Regions from separate parts of the Homo sapiens genome. Here region 1 is linked to region 2. Evidence: fine-mapped expression QTL. A gene starts in region 2. The other region holds a variant in brackets. All regions are shown on one strand. Distances are between the middles of the regions. Region 1 holds the start of LOC107987266 (a long non-coding RNA gene). Region 2 holds the start of HCN2 (hyperpolarization activated cyclic nucleotide gated potassium and sodium channel 2).

The links.
Region 1: its variant is fine-mapped to the expression of HCN2 in whole blood (TOPMed, PIP above 0.99). The same link has a PIP of 0.9 or more in blood mononuclear cells.

The regions. Positions count from the first base shown.
Region 1 is chr19:607,155-616,018 of GRCh38, forward strand. It overlaps HCN2 (hyperpolarization activated cyclic nucleotide gated potassium and sodium channel 2), which reads left to right. Exons shown (of 8, transcript NM_001194.4): 4 at 810-1,028; 5 at 3,105-3,251; 6 at 6,094-6,334; 7 at 6,698-6,862; 8 at 8,641-8,864. It overlaps LOC107987266 (a long non-coding RNA gene), which reads right to left and starts at 6,319. Exons shown (of 2, transcript XR_001753828.2): 1 at 5,725-6,319; 2 at 2,786-4,000. RefSeq lists an enhancer at 3,756-4,065 and a silencer at 6,185-6,366. The variant G/A (reference allele first, on the strand shown) is at 3,491.
Region 2 is chr19:586,801-595,229 of GRCh38, forward strand. HCN2 (hyperpolarization activated cyclic nucleotide gated potassium and sodium channel 2) reads left to right here and starts at 3,081. Exons shown (of 8, transcript NM_001194.4): 1 at 3,081-3,777. The coding sequence starts at 3,146. It also overlaps the pseudogene LOC100420586. RefSeq lists an enhancer at 1,271-1,850.

The DNA.
Region 1 (8,864 bases), 21 kb after region 2:
GAGCGAAACTCCGTCAAAAAAGAAGGAATAATAAATGAAGTTAGGTCCCAGATACTCCTTGCTTCCTAGCTGAGATGTGCTGACTGTTAAGAAGGGTTAGTTATGGGAGCCCTCGGCCGCTACAGTCAGGTTAGTGGCCAGTGAGCCTTTGTCCCTGCCTGGGGAGTGCTGTGCCCCAGCGTCCAGCCACATATGGGACTTGGGATGTGTTTGGTTTGGACACAGAGCAGGTGGGCATTGATGGGGTCAGGAGCTACAGAGGGAAGACCCGCCAGTGCCCCTCCCCAGAGCCTGGCACAGCTGCCCAGGCTGAGGCAGCCCATTGTCTGGCTGCCACCCGCACATGCGGTCCCATTTCCTGAACAGAGCCCCGCGGCTCCCCTTTCCCGGCCGGGTCAGCTGAGGACTTGGTGCGGCAGGACCTCCTGGGCCGGCCTGGTGTCTCTGCCCGCCCTGCCCCTCTGCTCTGGCCCAGATGCTCCCTGGAACTTTTGCCCCCTCTTGACCTCACAGATGCTCTGATCTCAGAGGCTGCAAAAGGCGGGACCCAGACTCTCGCCCTTGGGGTCTCAGTTTCCCCAGGAGTGAAGCGGGCAGGTAGAATCAGCCCTGGCCCTCCTGCCAACTCACTGTGACAAGTGTGCAAACCATGTCATCTACCTGGGTCTCCATTTCTCTTGGTTACCTCTGAACATGGGGAGCTCACCACCTCCAGTGCTTGGCAGAGGGTGGGCGCTGGGCCCTTGAGGACCGAGGGCTCCTGGGGCGTGAGCACCTGCCCACCACCGCCCCTCCTGCTGGCCTTGCAGAACCACTCGTGGAGTGAACTGTACTCCTTCGCACTCTTCAAGGCCATGAGCCACATGCTGTGCATCGGGTACGGCCGGCAGGCGCCCGAGAGCATGACGGACATCTGGCTGACCATGCTCAGCATGATTGTGGGTGCCACCTGCTACGCCATGTTCATCGGCCACGCCACTGCCCTCATCCAGTCGCTGGACTCCTCGCGGCGCCAGTACCAGGAGAAGGTCTGAGGGAGGCGGGCCCCGGCCTGGGTTCTGATGGGGGAGGCGGGCCTGGATCTGGGGTCTGAGAGAGAGTCAGGCCAGGCCCTGGGGTCTGATGGAGGGAGGCAGGCCCGGTCCTGGGGTCTGAGGCTGGAGGGAGGCCTTGCCCTGGGGTCTGAGGGCGGAGGTAGTCCTTGTCCCGGGGTCTGAGGGGAGGGGCGGGCCCGGCCCCGGGGTCTGAGGGGAGAGGCAGTCTCAGCCCTTCACTCAGCTTCAAGTGGCGCGCTCAGGGCAGAGACCGCGTGATGGGGAGCAGGGGACCCTGGGGGTCTGTGGCTGTGATTAGGAGGAGAAACGGCCGGTGGTGAGAGGTTCTCTGACCCTGTGACAGGGAGGGAGGTCCAGAGCCTGGAGATGGACGTGGGGCGGGGGCTGGGGAGGGGATGCAGGCTGGGCAGGAAGGGGTGAGTTGGGATCAGGGCAGGACAGGGTCAGTCTTTGGACATCGGGAAGCCCCCGGGCTGAAGGGGCATTGCCAGGAGGCTGGGCCCACCTGGGGGTCTCTAGGCCGGCTCAGGATGGGGCTGGGTTAGGGAAGGGCCTGGCGGGGTCTGAGAGGCCTGGGGTTGCTTCAGGACACGCCGGTGGCCGGCAGTCAGGGCCAGGCTTCAGGGAGAGCAAGGCTGCCCCACTGCTCAGATGCGGCCTCTGGCCTGCAGCGTCCATTGGGTTAATCCTAGGCTTGGCAGTGGAGGGGACACGGGGGAGCTGGGAGGGGTGGAGGGAGATTAGGATTGGCCCCATTGGCAGCCCCTGGAGTTGGGCCTCATGCACCACTCTGTGCCTCAGTTTCCCCATGTTAGGCGGCTGGCTGGTCCTGGCTGGGAGCCAAGTGCCCCCCTCTCCCGCGCCCCGAGCAGTGGCTGGCTGGGTCAGCTGGGCCCCGTGCCAGGCGCCCTGCTGTCCGGAAGCCACGGGCCTCACACCCAAACATAAGCTGGTGCCACCACCCGCCCGCCGTCACGGGTTCCGCTGAGCTCAGGGCAGCTGCGGCCGGGCGGGGCTGGGGCGGAAGTGAGGCTGGAGCTGCCGGGGGGCACCGTCCTGGGGACAGCAGGGCCTGGCACCCCCGCCCAGCACCCACGCTCCCTTCCCTGCTCAGGAGGGGCTGACCCGATGGTTTCTGGAAAGATCATCAGGGAAGGGCCAGAGCCCCCGGGAAGGGGGTCCTGTGTGTCAGGGTACCTGGGGCCTCTCCTCGTAGAGTCAGGTGCCCACCCATTCCTCAGGGATAGGGTTGCTAGATAAAGTTCAGGGCACCCGGCCTGGTGCAGTGGCTCCTGCCTGTAATCCCGGCACTCTGGGAGGCCGAGACAGGCCGATCGCCTGAGGTCAGGAGTTTAAGACCAGCCTGAGCAACACGGCGAGACCTCATCGCTACAAAAAATTAAAAAATTAGCAGGGCAGGGTGGTGCACACCTGTAATCCCCACTACTCAGGAGGCCGAGGTGGGAGGATCCCTTGAGCCCAGGAGTTCAAGACCAGCCTGTGCAATATGGCGAGACCTCATCTCCACAAAAAATAAAAGAATCAGCCAGGCGTGGTGGCGCACACCTGCAGTCCCTGCTACTCAGGAGGCTGAGGTGGGAGGATTGCTTGAGCCCATAGGCGGAGGCTGCAGTGAGCTGTGATTGCACCACTGCACTCCAGCGTGGGCCACAGAGCGAGACAGTGTCTCAGAAAAAAAAAATGGAATTTATCATTGAAACGAATTCAACTTTGATTTAAATAGAAGCATGTTTATTTGCTCTTGTTGAATCTGGCCGCCCCTGTGTGTGGCGGAGGCCTGTCTCCCCGCTGTGGGCGGGGGCTTTGTCTGACCCAGCCCTGACCCCCCACAGTACAAGCAGGTGTGAAGGCCTATCTCCCCGCCACAGGCCGGGGGGCTGTCTGACCCACAAGCAGGTGCCCGTGTGCCCGCTGCAGGCTGGGGGCGGTGTCTGACCCAGCCTCGCCTCCCCACAGTACAAGCAGGTGCCCCTGTGCCCGCTGCAGGCCGGGGGCGGTGTCTGACCCAGCCTCGCCTCCTCCCCACAGTACAAGCAGGTGGAGCAGTACATGTCCTTCCACAAGCTGCCAGCTGACTTCCGCCAGAAGATCCACGACTACTATGAGCACCGTTACCAGGGCAAGATGTTTGACGAGGACAGCATCCTGGGCGAGCTCAACGGGCCCCTGCGGGAGGTGAGGCGGGCGCCGGGCGGGCGGGAGGCAGCCTCCGGTACAGGGCCGGCCTCCCTCTCCTGGAGCCCAGGAGCCGGTCCCTGAGGGAGGCGAGGTGCCTAGGCTGCAGCAGGAGGGACTCGAGCTAGACCTGCGTACACACCCTCCCCTCCCCGCCCCGTGAGCCTCTGCACCCCCAGGACCCCCGCCACCCCCGCCTTGCTTCCCGCTGCCCCCTTAGCAGAACTGCCTGGGTCTGT[G/A]CCTGACAGGGCGGGGCAGAAGCAGGGCAGGGGGTGGGGAGGGAGGAGCCGCAGAGGCCCCGCTGAGCACCAGGTCCTGGGGGCACTGAGGCTGATTGGAGCGGGTTTAACTCCCAGCTCTGTTCCGGTAGCCTGAGTGACCCTGGGCAAGTTTCCCAGGGTTGCGGGAACAAATACCCACAGGCTGAGTGGCTTGAACAGCGGAGATTCGGCCTCCCACCGTCCTGGAGGCCGGAAGCCCAACATCAAGGCGTGGGCCGGGCCGTGCTACCCCCCCGGAGCCCCTGGGGAGGATCCTTCCTGCCTCTTCCGGCGTCTGGGGCTCCAGGCGCCCTTGGCTTGCAGATTGATCTCCCTGATCTCTGCCTCCATCTGCTCACAGCCTTCTCCCCTGTGTGTCTCTGTCTCTTCTTGTAAATTCATCCGTCGTTGGATCAGGGCCCACCCGGTTCCTCGTGGCCTCGCCTTAACTGGGCCATGTCTGCAGAGACCCTATTTCCACATAAGGTCCTATTCACAGGAACCGGGGGTCAGGATGTCAGCCTGTCTTTCTGGGAGATGTAGTTCAACCCACAACACACATCAAACAGTTATTGAGCGCCGACTGCGTGCCCTGCCGTGTGCTTGAAGGTCCCACCCTCAGGAAGCGGGGCCTAGGGATGGCGGCCGTGATCACGCAGGCAGCAGAGAGCAGCTCTGGGAAGCGGGGAGGGACGAGGACGGGGAGGCGACATCAGCAAGGCCGTGTGTGAGCCAGGCAGGGTGTCCCCGGTGTAGCACCTGGCTCGGGCAGAGGCCCCGAGGAGGGGCTGGAGGAGCTGGGCGAGGAGGCGGGCAGGACGGGCCTGACACTAGGGACCTCGGGCCCCGGGAATGCCTCTGGGGGGGCGTGTACACCCGTTGCTCCCAGGAGGCACACACTGCGGTTCGCTTCGCCAAGAATGTTTAATTGCATTTGATGACTACGGTTTCCATTCATTCATTTGTAGAGATATAACACTCAGACCACAAAATGCATAAAATGCGGTGGCTTTTAGTATTAACAGAGTGCTGCACCCGATACCACAGCCTCACTCCAGAACATTCTCATGGGCCCAAAAGGAGACCTGGGGTGTTAGTCACCAGCTCACTCCCCGTCCCCAGCCCCTGGCAACCCACGCTACTTAGTCATTATTTAGGTGTTTAGGAGTTGCAAAGTCAAATCTTTAAACCCACATATGGCCAGGCGTGGTGGCTCACGCCTGTAATCCCAGCACTTTCAGAGGCCGAGACGGGCAGATCACCTGAGGTCAGGAGTTCGAGACCAGCCTGGCCAACATGGTGAAGCCCCGTCTCCACTAAAAATACAAAATTAGCCGGGCGTGGTGGTGGGCGCCTGTAATCCCAGCTACTCTGGAGGCTGAGACAGGAGAATCGCTTGAACCCAGGAGGCGGCGGTTGCAGTGAGCCGAGATTGTGCCACTGCACTCCAGCCTGGACAACAGAGCGAGACTCCGTCTCAAAAAAAAAAAAAGTACCAAAAAGTGCCCCAGGTCATAAGGGCACAGCTCGATAGCTGGTCCCTAAAGGGAACGTGGTGTAACCACCACACAGAACGAAGCTGGAACGTTCCTGCCGTCCTTAGAAGCTGCCTTTGCTAAGGGGAATTGCCCTGACTTCCCACACCATTGATTCATCTCCAGACCCTTGGTTTTCATGTTGATTTTTCAAAAATCACCTGATAGTCTGACCGAATGTAGCTTTCCACTGGTGTGTGTGTGTGTGTGTGTGTGTGTGTGTGTGTGAGAGAGAGATGGAGTCTCGCTCTGTCACCCGGGCTCCAGTGCAGTTGTGTGATCTTGGTTCACTGTAACCTCCTCCTCCCGGGTTCAAGAGACTCGTGCCTCAGCCTCCCGAGTAGCTGGGATTACAGGCACCCGCCACCACACCCAGCTAATTTTTTGTATTTTTAGTAGAGATGGGGTTTCACCATGTTGGCCAGGCTGGTCTCGAACTCCTGACATCAGGCGATCCACCCACCTTGGCCTCCCAGAGTGCTGGGATTACAGGTGTGAGCCACCACGCCCGGCCTTATTTTTCCCCCATTTTCTTTTTTTTTTTTTTTGAGTCAGGGTCTTGTTCTGCGCTCAGGCTGGAGGGCAGTGGTGTGGGGATCACGGCTCACTGCAGCCTCGACTTCCTGCACCACCACGCCTGGCTGTTTTTTTTTTTTCCGGTAGAGACGGGGGTCTTACCGTGTTGCCCAGGCTGGTCTAGAACTCCTGGGCTCAAGCGATCCTCCCGCCTCGGCCTCCGCAAATGCTGAGATCACACGCGTGAGCCCCCGCACCCGGCCTCCTTTCCACCGCTCTTGTCTACAGCCGCCCCTCCTGGTCCGATTGTATTGGCAGATGTCGCCAATACGGTGTCAAACGGCGAAGGGGCACTGAGCGTTTTTTCTTTCTCCCGTCCTTGGCGGCAGCAGCTCGGTTCCGGCTACGGGGCTGAGCCCGTCTCTCAGACGAGGAAACTGGGGTCCGAGAGGTGAGCCGGTCCCAGAGGCAGGGCGAGGGGGAAGCGGGAGTGGGGTCCGCAGCGGACCCAGCCCTGCCTCCCCCCTGCAGGAGATCGTCAACTTCAACTGCCGGAAGCTGGTGGCCTCCATGCCGCTGTTCGCCAACGCCGACCCCAACTTCGTCACGGCCATGCTGACCAAGCTCAAGTTCGAGGTCTTCCAGCCGGGTGACTACATCATCCGCGAAGGCACCATCGGGAAGAAGATGTACTTCATCCAGCACGGCGTGGTCAGCGTGCTCACTAAGGGCAACAAGGAGATGAAGCTGTCCGATGGCTCCTACTTCGGGGGTGAGCTTGAGGGGGGCGCGCCTGGAGGGGGAGGGGGCACGCGACCCCCGCGGTGTGCAGAGCCAGGGGGCCGGGGCCGGGGCCGGGGCCGGGGATGGGGATGGGGATGGGGATGGGGCCGGGGATGGGGATGGGGATGGGGATGGGGCCGGGGATGGGGATGGGGATGGGGCCGGGGATGGGGATGGGGCCGGGGATGGGGCCGGGGATGGGGCCGGGGATGGGGCCGGGGCCGGCACCAGGGAGAGCCTGGGTGGGAAGCGCCCACGCTGGCCAAGGTGCAGAGGCCGGGCCGTGTGCCTGGGCGGGGAGGGCCGCGGCGCCCGCCTCGTCCAGCAACCCCCCCCTGCGCGCCACGTGCAGAGATCTGCCTGCTCACCCGGGGCCGCCGCACGGCGAGCGTGCGGGCTGACACCTACTGCCGCCTCTATTCGCTGAGCGTGGACAACTTCAACGAGGTGCTGGAGGAGTACCCCATGATGCGGCGCGCCTTCGAGACGGTGGCCATCGACCGCCTGGACCGCATCGGTGAGCGGGCCGGGGGCGTGGCCGGGGCGGGTGCCCTGGCGGGGGAGGGGCGTGGCCAAGGCATCAGGAGAGTGGCTTGGACAGTGGCAGGGGGAAGGGCGTGGCTGTGGCATCAGGGGCACGGTTGGGGCAGAGACGTGGCCAAGGCATCAGGAGTGTGGCCATGGCAGCAGGGGCGTGGCTGGGGCAGGGGCAGCGGCTGGCCGCTCCTAGGACCCCTTTGGGTCTAGAGGCTGATTTTCTGACCTATTGTCCTACTTCAGCCAGAGGCAGCCTGTTTCCCAAGGGAGGGAATGCACAGGGTGTTTGCGGTTGTGCCGAATGCTCGGTGAGCACCTGCTGTGTGCTGGGGGTGCAGGGGACAGACCCGGGGGCCCACTCAGACTCCCAGGGAGGCTTATGGACTGGTGATGAAATCACACACGACTGGGCTGTGTGCCAGCAGGGCAGGTGGGGCCGGTGGGCTTCCCTGAGTTGGGAATGCAGAGTGGAGACCAGGGTAAGGGATGCCATGTGGAAACGGGGAGGAAGATGTGTTCGTGGAGTGGACACAGCACATCCCAAGGCCCTGAGGTGGAAAAGAGGCCTAGAGTCCAGAGAGCCAGGGAGGCCTGGAGGAGGTTGGGGAAGAAGGGGAGGCCAGACACACAGGGCCCAGTGGGCGGCAGGGAGAGTTTAGACTAAATCAGGAGCATCAGGGAGCCATGGAGGGTTCTAGGTGGGCGGAGGACCTGGTCAGATTGTATCCGCCAAGGCGGGCCGTGTCCAGGAGGGAGACGGTGACCTGGCCTCTCAGGGGGGCAGTCTCTGGGGCAGGGAGGGGCAGAGCCCTGATGACTGGATGTAGGCGCCAGAGAGATGGCGGCTCATGCTGCTGTTCGTGGGAATGGGAATGAAGACCATGGCTGAAACGCAGGACAGGTGCGACGGAGTGGTGTCAGGGAGCTCCCTGGTGTACAGTAGGAAGCTCTCCACAACTTGCTCTATACAGTGAGTATGCAACCCGTTCCTGAGTATCAGGTGCTTAGGTTATAACTTCTGTATACAGCAGGTGCTCAGCACAGGCTGTGTACAGGCAGGTGTTTTCGGTATGCCTGTGGCACACTGGAGGCAGTCATTACATAATCAGCGTATACAGGTGGTACACATGCATACTTGGTGCACAGTGATACCTGCTCCATGTACACAGCAGGCATTAAATACCTGTTTACTGCCAGGCGCGGTGGCTCACGCCTGTAGTCCCAGCACTTTCGGAGGCCAAGGTGGGTGGATCACGAGGTCAGGAGATTGAGACCATCCTGGCTAACATGGTGAAACCCCGTCTCTACTAAAAAAAAAATACAAAAAATTAGCCGGGTGTGGTGGCGGGCGCCTGTAGTCCCAGCTACTCGGGAGGATGAGGCAGGAGAATGGTGTGAACCCGGGAGGTGGACCTTGCAGTGGGCCGAGATCGCGCCACTGCACTCCAGCCCGGGCGACAGAGCAAGACTCCGTCTCAGAAACAAAGCAAAACAAAAGCCCTGCTTTCTGTATGCAGGTGCTTCATGCATGCTGGCTGTGCATAGCAGGTGCTCAGCCTGTATATGGCAGGTACTCAATATCCATACTATAGGCCAGAGATGCTACATATGTGCTTATTGTATACAGTAGGTGGTAAATGCATGCTTGCTCTACACGGCAAGCACTGTGTGCGCACCCGCGGTGCAGAGTAGGTGCTCGGTGCCCGCTGTACGCAGCAGGCGCTCCCTGTGCACACGCTAACGCCCCCTCTCCCGCAGGCAAGAAGAATTCCATCCTCCTGCACAAGGTGCAGCATGACCTCAACTCGGGCGTATTCAACAACCAGGAGAACGCCATCATCCAGGAGATCGTCAAGTACGACCGCGAGATGGTGCAGCAGGCCGAGCTGGGTCAGCGCGTGGGCCTCTTCCCGCCGCCGCCGCCGCCGCCGCAGGTCACCTCGGCCATCGCCACGCTGCAGCAGGCGGCGGCCATGAGCTTC
Region 2 (8,429 bases):
TGCTGGAGGGACCCGGGCTTTCTTCCAAAGGCACTGGGAGCTGTGAGTGGTTTTAGGCCACAGACCGATGTGACTGACTGAGGGGCCAGGCCCTGGGGCTCCATGCTCCCTACACAAGCCAGGTGCGGTCCCACCTCAGGACCCTCGCACAGGCTATGCCGCCTGCCCAGAGCTTCCTGCAGCTTCCCGGGCCGCACCCCCTCCTTCAGGCCTTCTCCCAGCACCTGGCCCCCTCCCCACCCTGAGTGTTTGGACAATGCTCACCACCTTCTGCTGGACAGTATCTTACTTGCTACTCATAAGGTTGACTGTGATACCCAGCTTTCTCCCCTGGCTGGCTCTCTGAGTCAGCTGTACTGGCCTCTGAGTCAATACTCGGCCTGGAGTAGGTGCTTAATAAGTTTTTGTTGATTTTTTTTTTTTTTTTTTTTGAGACAGAGTCTCGCTGTGTCACCCAGGCTGGAGAGCAGTGGTGCCATCCTGACTCGCTGCACCTCCCAGGTTCAAGCGATTCTCCTGCCTCATCCTCCTGAGTAGCTGAGATTACAGGCATGTGCCACCACATCCGGCTAATTTTTATATTTTTTATTAGAAACAGGGTTTTGCTATGTTGGCCACGATGGTCTCGAACTCCTGACCTCAACTGATCCGCCTGCCTCGGCCTCCCAAAGTGCTGGGATTACAGGCGTGAGCCACCGCGCCCGGCTTTTTTTTTTTTTTTTTTCTGAGACGGAGTCTTGCTCTATCACCAAGCGCTGGAGTGCAATGGTGTGATCTCAGCTCACTGCACCATCTGGCTCCTGAGTTCAAGCGACTCTCCTGCCTCAGCCTCCCAAGTAGCTGGGATTACAGGCGCCCACCACCACGCCTGGCTAATTTTTGTATTTTTAGTAGAGATGGGGTTTCACCATGTTGGCCAGGCTGGTCTCAATCTTTAAATATTTTTTAAATTAAAATAAATGAGCATGGCTGGGGGGGTGGCTCACACTTGTAATTCCAGCACTTTGGGAGGCCGAGGCGGGTGGGTCACCTGAGGTCAGCAGTTGGAGACCAGCCTGGCCCAACATGGCGAAACCCTGTCTCTACTAAAAATACAATAATTAGCCGAGCGTGGTGGCAGGCGCCTGTAATCCCAGCTACTCCGGAGGCTGAGGCAGGAGAATCGCTTAAACCCGGGAGTCGGAGGTTGCAGTGAGCCGAGGTCACGTCACTGCACTCCAGCCTGGGCGGCGACAGAGCGAGACTCCAACTCAAAAATAAATAAATACATAAATAAACAGATAAATACAGAGTACTCCGGCCTGGGCAAGGGGTCAGAGTGAGTGTGCCGAGGCCAGGGAGGGTCCCCGTGCACACTGACAGGCGCTGGCCTGGGTAAGCCTGTGGGCTGCAGAGCCGTCGCCAGGATCTGGTGACAAGGACCCCGAGCCACAGCCTCCCTTGTGACTTGCGGGTTCTGCCGGCGCCTGCAGGAGGCGTCTTTCTGCTTCTCCCACTGCCAGGCATGGGCGGTTCTCGTGCCGTGCGGGTCCCGCCTCCTCCCTGCTCCCAGCCGCGAGCCCTGGGGCTCTGGCGACCTGCCCGGCCTGACATCTTCCCAGGGTGAACATAAAAGAACCCCCTTCAGCTGGAGCACGCATCTGCCTCGGGGCGGGCCACAGCCTGGCACTGCCAACTGTGCCGCCCGCCCGGCCTCTCCCGCACCACCTTGGGACAAACAGCTGTCCTGCCCGCCTATGCGGAGGTGGCCGGCGGGGCCGGCGTGGGGGCGCAGGGATCCCCAGGGTGTGGGGCAGCCAGGCCGAGGCGAGAGACACGGTCGGGCTCAGCCCATCCACTGTCAGCCGGGCACATGCTGGCCCTCCCTCAAGTACCACTGAGTGCCTCCTGGGTGTAGGAAGAGGGCCATCTCTGCCCCGGTGGCCTCGAGGTGCAGATGGGTGGGGGGCACCCGGCACACGGGACATCGTGGCTGAGAGGACGTCAGGCCAGGTGCCAGGAGGGTCCCAGGAGGGCCTCCTGCCTCCAGGTGGGGATGTTCAGCCTCCACTTCTTCGAGTGTGACTGTCTGTCTCCTCTCTCTCACTTGCCAGCTTCCTCACCTGCCCCCTCCCGGCTGTCTGGTGGGCTGGGTGGCTAGGGACAGAGGCCTCATGTCACCTGGCACCAAGCAGCACCCACGCCCAGCCGGCTTCGGCCCAGAAGCAGAGCCTTGGGAAGCACCTGTCTCAGAGCTGGGGACTGGAGGCACTGGGGGCACAGCTGCACCCGGAGTCCGAGGGGTCGGGGAAAGGAGGCAACCCCGGGGCAGGGGGCTCTGGTACCCGTGCGAAGGCGCTAGTGGGCTTTGGGTCTCCCTGTGACCCCAATCTAAAGCCCACCAGACCTAGAGGAGACCCCCGCCGCACGGCTCCCCAGGGCACTGTTTGAGGGGTGGGTGGGAACCCCACACCCTCGGGTGGCTTTTCCAGTTTTCCTTGTCTGGCTGGGCTTGGCCTCAGTTTCCTCAAATGCAGACCAGGGAGAGGAGTGCCTGAGTCTCCCAGAACGGCGCCCAAGCCGGCCTGCCCCTCCCCACGCACTCAAGGGTCTCTGTCCAGGGCCCACAGGCGACCCAGCAAGGGCTCCTGTGACCTTTAGAAACACCCTTTCGTCGTGGAAGTCTTCAAACCTCACAGAAAGCAAGGAGGCGCTGGCCGTGGCGGCCTCTCCCGTCTCCCAGGCCCGCGTCCACCCTCCCCGCGCCGGTGCCCTCCGGACAGAGGTGGAAGCCGCGGCGCAGGAGAGGCGGCTCCGGCCGGGCAGCGGGGCCCGGTGACCTTGGGCGCGTCCTTACACGTCGCGGGCCTCAGTTTCCCCTCCTGGGGAGAGGCCCGCGCGGGGCTCCGAGGCCTCGGGCCGCGTGACCTTGGGGCGCCCCCGACCCCGCGGCCCGAGTTTCCCGGCGCCGAGCGGAGGCGGCGCGCGGGGAGGGGGCGCAGCCGAGGCGGGTCTCCCGCCCCCGCCCCTCCCCCGCCCCTCCCCCGCCGCGAGGCTCCGCCCCCCGCGGCTCCGCCCCGCCCCGCCCCCGCCTCCCCCCTCCCTCGGGCTCCGGCCGGCGGCGGCGGCGGCGGCTCCGCTCCGCACTGCCCGGCGCCGCCTCGCCATGGACGCGCGCGGGGGCGGCGGGCGGCCCGGGGAGAGCCCGGGCGCGACCCCCGCGCCGGGGCCGCCGCCGCCGCCGCCGCCCGCGCCCCCCCAACAGCAGCCGCCGCCGCCGCCGCCGCCCGCGCCCCCCCCGGGCCCCGGGCCCGCGCCCCCCCAGCACCCGCCCCGGGCCGAGGCGTTGCCCCCGGAGGCGGCGGATGAGGGCGGCCCGCGGGGCCGGCTCCGCAGCCGCGACAGCTCGTGCGGCCGCCCCGGCACCCCGGGCGCGGCGAGCACGGCCAAGGGCAGCCCGAACGGCGAGTGCGGGCGCGGCGAGCCGCAGTGCAGCCCCGCGGGGCCCGAGGGCCCGGCGCGGGGGCCCAAGGTGTCGTTCTCGTGCCGCGGGGCGGCCTCGGGGCCCGCGCCGGGGCCGGGGCCGGCGGAGGAGGCGGGCAGCGAGGAGGCGGGCCCGGCGGGGGAGCCGCGCGGCAGCCAGGCCAGCTTCATGCAGCGCCAGTTCGGCGCGCTCCTGCAGCCGGGCGTCAACAAGTTCTCGCTGCGGATGTTCGGCAGCCAGAAGGCCGTGGAGCGCGAGCAGGAGCGCGTCAAGTCGGCGGGGGCCTGGATCATCCACCCGTACAGCGACTTCAGGTACCGCCTCCGGGAGGGCCGGTCGGCGCGAGGGGGCCCGGGGAGCCGGGCGCGCGGGGAGCCGTCCTTGGAGCGCCTGGGGAGGGCGGGGCGGCGCGCCGGGCCGGTGACCTCGGGGCTCCTCGGTGACCTCGGGCGTGTCCGGGACCCGCCCCGGAGTGACCCCGGCGCGCGAGGCTCCGCCTCTGGGGGGGCTCCCCGGGTGACCGCGGAGCGCCCCCCTCCCACGCACCCCGACATCCTCCGCCCTGCGGCGCGGCGGGTGGGGTGGGCCGCAGGGCCAGGGTCTGAGCGCAGAGGGGCAGAGAGGACGAATAGAGGGGAACGTGGGCCCCAGAGAGGCGGCGGAGCGGGAGGGAGGAGGAACGAAGGGCGCCCGGGAAGGACGCGCCCCAGGGAGGCCGGGGGAGAGGGGGTTAAGCGGCTCCCACGGCGTCCACCCGCGCCCCGCCTGCGAGGAGGCGCGCCCGGGGCCGCGGGCCTGGAAAGCGTGCGGGTCCCCAGGCTGTGTCCCCGGGAGCCGCTCCACCCGAGCCGCGGGCGGTGCGCGCATGCGGCGGTGGGTGTGTAGACGCCGCTGTGGATCCAGCCGGCTAATGCGTGGAAGGCTCGGAGCAGGGCCGGCGCGGGGCCACCGCCACTGATGTTTGCGGTCGTGGTTCCTGGGCTGTGCGTGCTGTGGCCGGAGAGCGAGACCGGCGCGTGTCCCCGTGGGCTGTGTGTGAACAGGGGCCCGTGACCGCGGCGGGGTTCCCGGGGCGCGAGCCTGTGGCCGGAGAGGTGTGTCTCCAGGAGTGTGTTTGCGTGGTGGTCGCGGGCGTGTGCGCCTCCGGTGGGTTTATTTTGGTGGGACGTGTGGTTTGTGTGTGTTGGGACCAGGTGGCGGGCGTGCGCGTGTACGCCCGGGGCCGGTGTGCACCGGTGGGCAGTAGTGTGAGCCGCAGGCAGGTCTCACACACGCGACCATGGAGGGATGCGTGTGTGTTTGTGTATCCACGAGTGGGGTGTGAGGTGGGGTGTGGAGGGTGCAGGTGGAGGGTGTAGGTGGGGCCCGCCGGGCTAGCGAGGCCGGGCGCGCGGGACGGGCGCGGTTTCAGCACCACGGACAGCGCGCCGGACCTGGGAAGCCTGCGGTTTTCCCGCCTGTCTCTCCTCCTCCAGGCCTGGGCGCCCCAGGACAGCCCCCACGGACCCTGGACCCCCGGAACTGGGCAGGGAGGCTGTGGGGTTCTCTCTTCCCCTGGATTCTCTGCACCCCTAGTGCTTGACTGGAGAAACTGAGGCCTGGGGCACATGCGTCCTGGACAGAGCCTGGAGGAAGGCCCTGGAATCCTCCTCCCACCCCAGGCCTTCCTGAGAGGTGAATACAGCTTTGACCAGAAGCCTGGATTTCGAGACAGGCCAGGGGTGGGAGGAGCCCCGAAATCCCCAGAGGGGCTGTGTCCGGCCCCTCCCACCCTGCCTCTGTGCCCCACCGGGAGAGCTTGGTCAGCATCTGGGCTCTGGCCTGCGAAATGTGGACAGTGAGCGGGAAGGACTGGACTTCCAGGGCTGCTGGTCGGCCTGGCCCCACTTCCAGTCGGGCAGTGGCACCCCCTGACCGGAGAGGGACGCGGTGGAGAGGGAGCTGTAGAACGTGCCCACTCCCCTCCGTCCCCTCCAGCATGACCTTCGACAGAGATGGGTGCACCGCAGCGTGGGGGCTGGCAGGTGGAGGCCCACACCAGCCACTCCCTCCCCTGGGCAGCTCCAGCGACCCCCTGGCTGCAGAGGGGCGGTCGGTGGCCTGGGGGGCAGGTGGGCAGATGGCTGATCCCGGGGCTTGGGGGGAAGGCCGGTGGTAGGAGTGAAGCCCTCTCATCCTTCCACCCTCCTTGGGCGTGGTCGCCTGGAGGCCTGGGCAGGCTGTGGCCCCGCTCTGTGCTCTGAGGCATAGAGGGCTCAGAGGCCCCTGTGTGGACCAAGTGCAGCCCCACCCCGGCAGATGAGTGTTGAAGTGGAACTGAGCAGGCAGGGAATGGGGTTAGCGGGGCCTGTCTTCGGGACTAGGGGAGTCACGGCAGTCAGATTTTAAAAAAGGATTTCGATGTTGCCAAGCTGGGTGCACGGGGCCCCTAGGACCCTCCCCAGGCTTGGGACCTGTGCCAGTGTGGAATCAGTGTGGAAAAAGACCCCCAAGAATATCTCAAAAGCTCCCTAAGCAGGCGGCCGGACCCTGCTGTGGAGGGTGTTTTGGGGCAGCCCACAGCAAGCGAAGGGGCCTCTACGTTTGCAGCTGACTCAGGAGCCTGGCCCCAACTGGCTTCGGGCCCAAGGCCTCCTGTGCCTGGCTGGGTGTCTTGGGTCCTCGCTGGGCCCCTCTGCCTCAGTTTCCCCAATTGCACGGTGGGGATGGTATGAGGGAGAAGGATGGGGTCTTTCACAGCCTTGCCAGTGTCTCAGCCTCACGTCTCACACTCTCTTCACCTCCCCTTCCTGCTGAGAGAGTGCTGTGCTCCTTGCCCAGCCTGTGCCCCCCAGGCACGCCCTCACCCCGGTTCTTCCTCGCTGCCCAGCTGTCTCCGCCACGCCCAAGTCCACCCTGCTCCCGTGCTCGGAAGTGGCCTCTTTCACGCCCCACGTCCCAGTCCCAGTATACAGCAGGTGCCACATATTTGCTGAATTTTCTGAGGGGCAGAGCATGGGTCCTGGGCTGACGTGGGTCCAGATTTCGGCTCTCAGGCCTGGGCGGCTGGCCCCTTTGGAAGTGCAGTTGGTGCCAGGGTGCAGCGGCTCACGCCTGAGATCCCAGCACTTTGGGAGGCTGAGGCGGGCGGATCACCTGAGGTCAGGAGTTCGAGAGCAGCCTGGCCAACATGGTGAGATGATCCCGTCTCTACTAAAAATGCAAAAATTAGCTGGGCATCGTGACGAGCGCCTGTAATCCCAGCTACTCGGGAGGCTGAGGCAGGAGAATCACTTGAATCCAGGAGGCAGAGGTTGCAGTGAGCCGAGATCGCGCTGCTGCACTCCAGCCTGGCTGACAGAGTGGGACTTGGTCTCAAAAAAAAAGAAAAGGAAGAAGAAGTGCAGTTGGTCTATTGCTGAAGTCTCTGGGGCTGTGGGTGGCTCTACACCCCGGCCTGACGTCTGAAAGTCCCCAGAGGCATGCTGGGCGCTTCCCTGGGGTGCTGGTGGAAGAGCAAGTTCAAGGACCCAAGTTCAAGGTTTTGGGTTCCAGAGGCTCAAGTTCCCTTCCTTGTAGGTGATCACGGTTGGTGCCTGAATTGGAACAGGCGTGAAAACCAAGAAGGAAGGGGTTTGGCCTTATGCAACCCCCAGGGCTTCGGCAGGGTCTTCTGTGCCTCCCAGAGCAAAATTAGGTCAAAAATAAGTATAGTTCATTCCTACTCCCTTCACCCCAGCCGCCGCTGATTCTAAAGGCCACACAGGTCCACTTGGGAAAGCCTGAGTCGTGCAAAGGAGGGTGTCTCCGCAGGAGAGGGGCAGGGGCTGGAGGTCTCTGCACGAGAAGGGCTGGGGCTGGAGGGTGTCTCCGCAGGAGAGGGGCTGGGGCTGGAGGGGACACGAAGGCCCAGGGAGGGGCGGTCTGAGGAGGTCGCGTTCTCCGAAGCTTGCTGTCATCCACCCTCCCTGCCCCCGGTGTCACCGAGGGGGCTGGGCAGACCTGGCGGGGTGGAGACCTGGGCAGATCCGGGGTTTGTGCCCTGGGAGCTCTGGGGGGCACAGGGCAGGTGTCGGGTGGAGAGAGGCTGGCGGCTTCCTGACTGCCCTCGGTCCAGTTCCAGGGCTAAGTGCCCTGTGGCCGCCCTGCCGTCTCCTGCTGCTGCTGACTTGCAGGTCTGTGTTTCTGAATTGTCTTCAGCTGGGGAGGCCCCGTGTGAGGGGAGACAGACGAGATGCTCCCCAAAGCCAGGATCTGTTATGTCCCCTGGGGTCCCCGAGAGGACTGGTCGGGGAGGAGCTGCTCCAAGACCCCACCAGGACAGGCGGCCCCTGGGCCCCGCCTCAGATGGCTGAGTGGGTCAGCGGGAGATCAGCCTGGGGGTGCAGCTCTGCAAATCCGCAGTGATGAATCCCAGCATTAGGGCGTGGGAATAAACCCCCCATTATCCTGGGGGGATGGCCCCGGGGGCAGGGCGAGGCGAGGGTTTGTCTGGCTCTGGTCACGGCAGGAAGGCCCAGCGTGTGCAGGATGGTGGGGTGTGCATGGACCCATATCCCAGGTGGCGGTGGCCTGCCCTCTGGTCTGCGTGGAGGGGTCAGGGGTCGGGGTGGCCAAGGCCTCCCCGCTCTCTTCAGGGCCTTCCCTATGTTCCCTGCTCGAAAACGGACATCTTTGTCCAGGCACTGTGGCTCATGCCTGTAATGCCAGTACTTTGGGAGGCGGAGGCGGGAGGATCGCTTGAGCCCAGGAGTTCGAGACCAGCCTGGGCAACATAGCAAGACCCCCATCTCTACAAAAAGTTAAAAAATTAGCCAGGCGTGGTGGCGTGCACCTGTAGTCCCAGCTACTCTGGAGGCTGAGGCGGGAGGATCACCTGAGCCCAGGAGGTTGAGGCTGCAGTGAGCTATGATCGTGCCACTGCACTCCGGCCCGGGAAACAGAGTGAGACCCTGTCTCAAAAAAATAAAAAAAACCTAAAAACCCA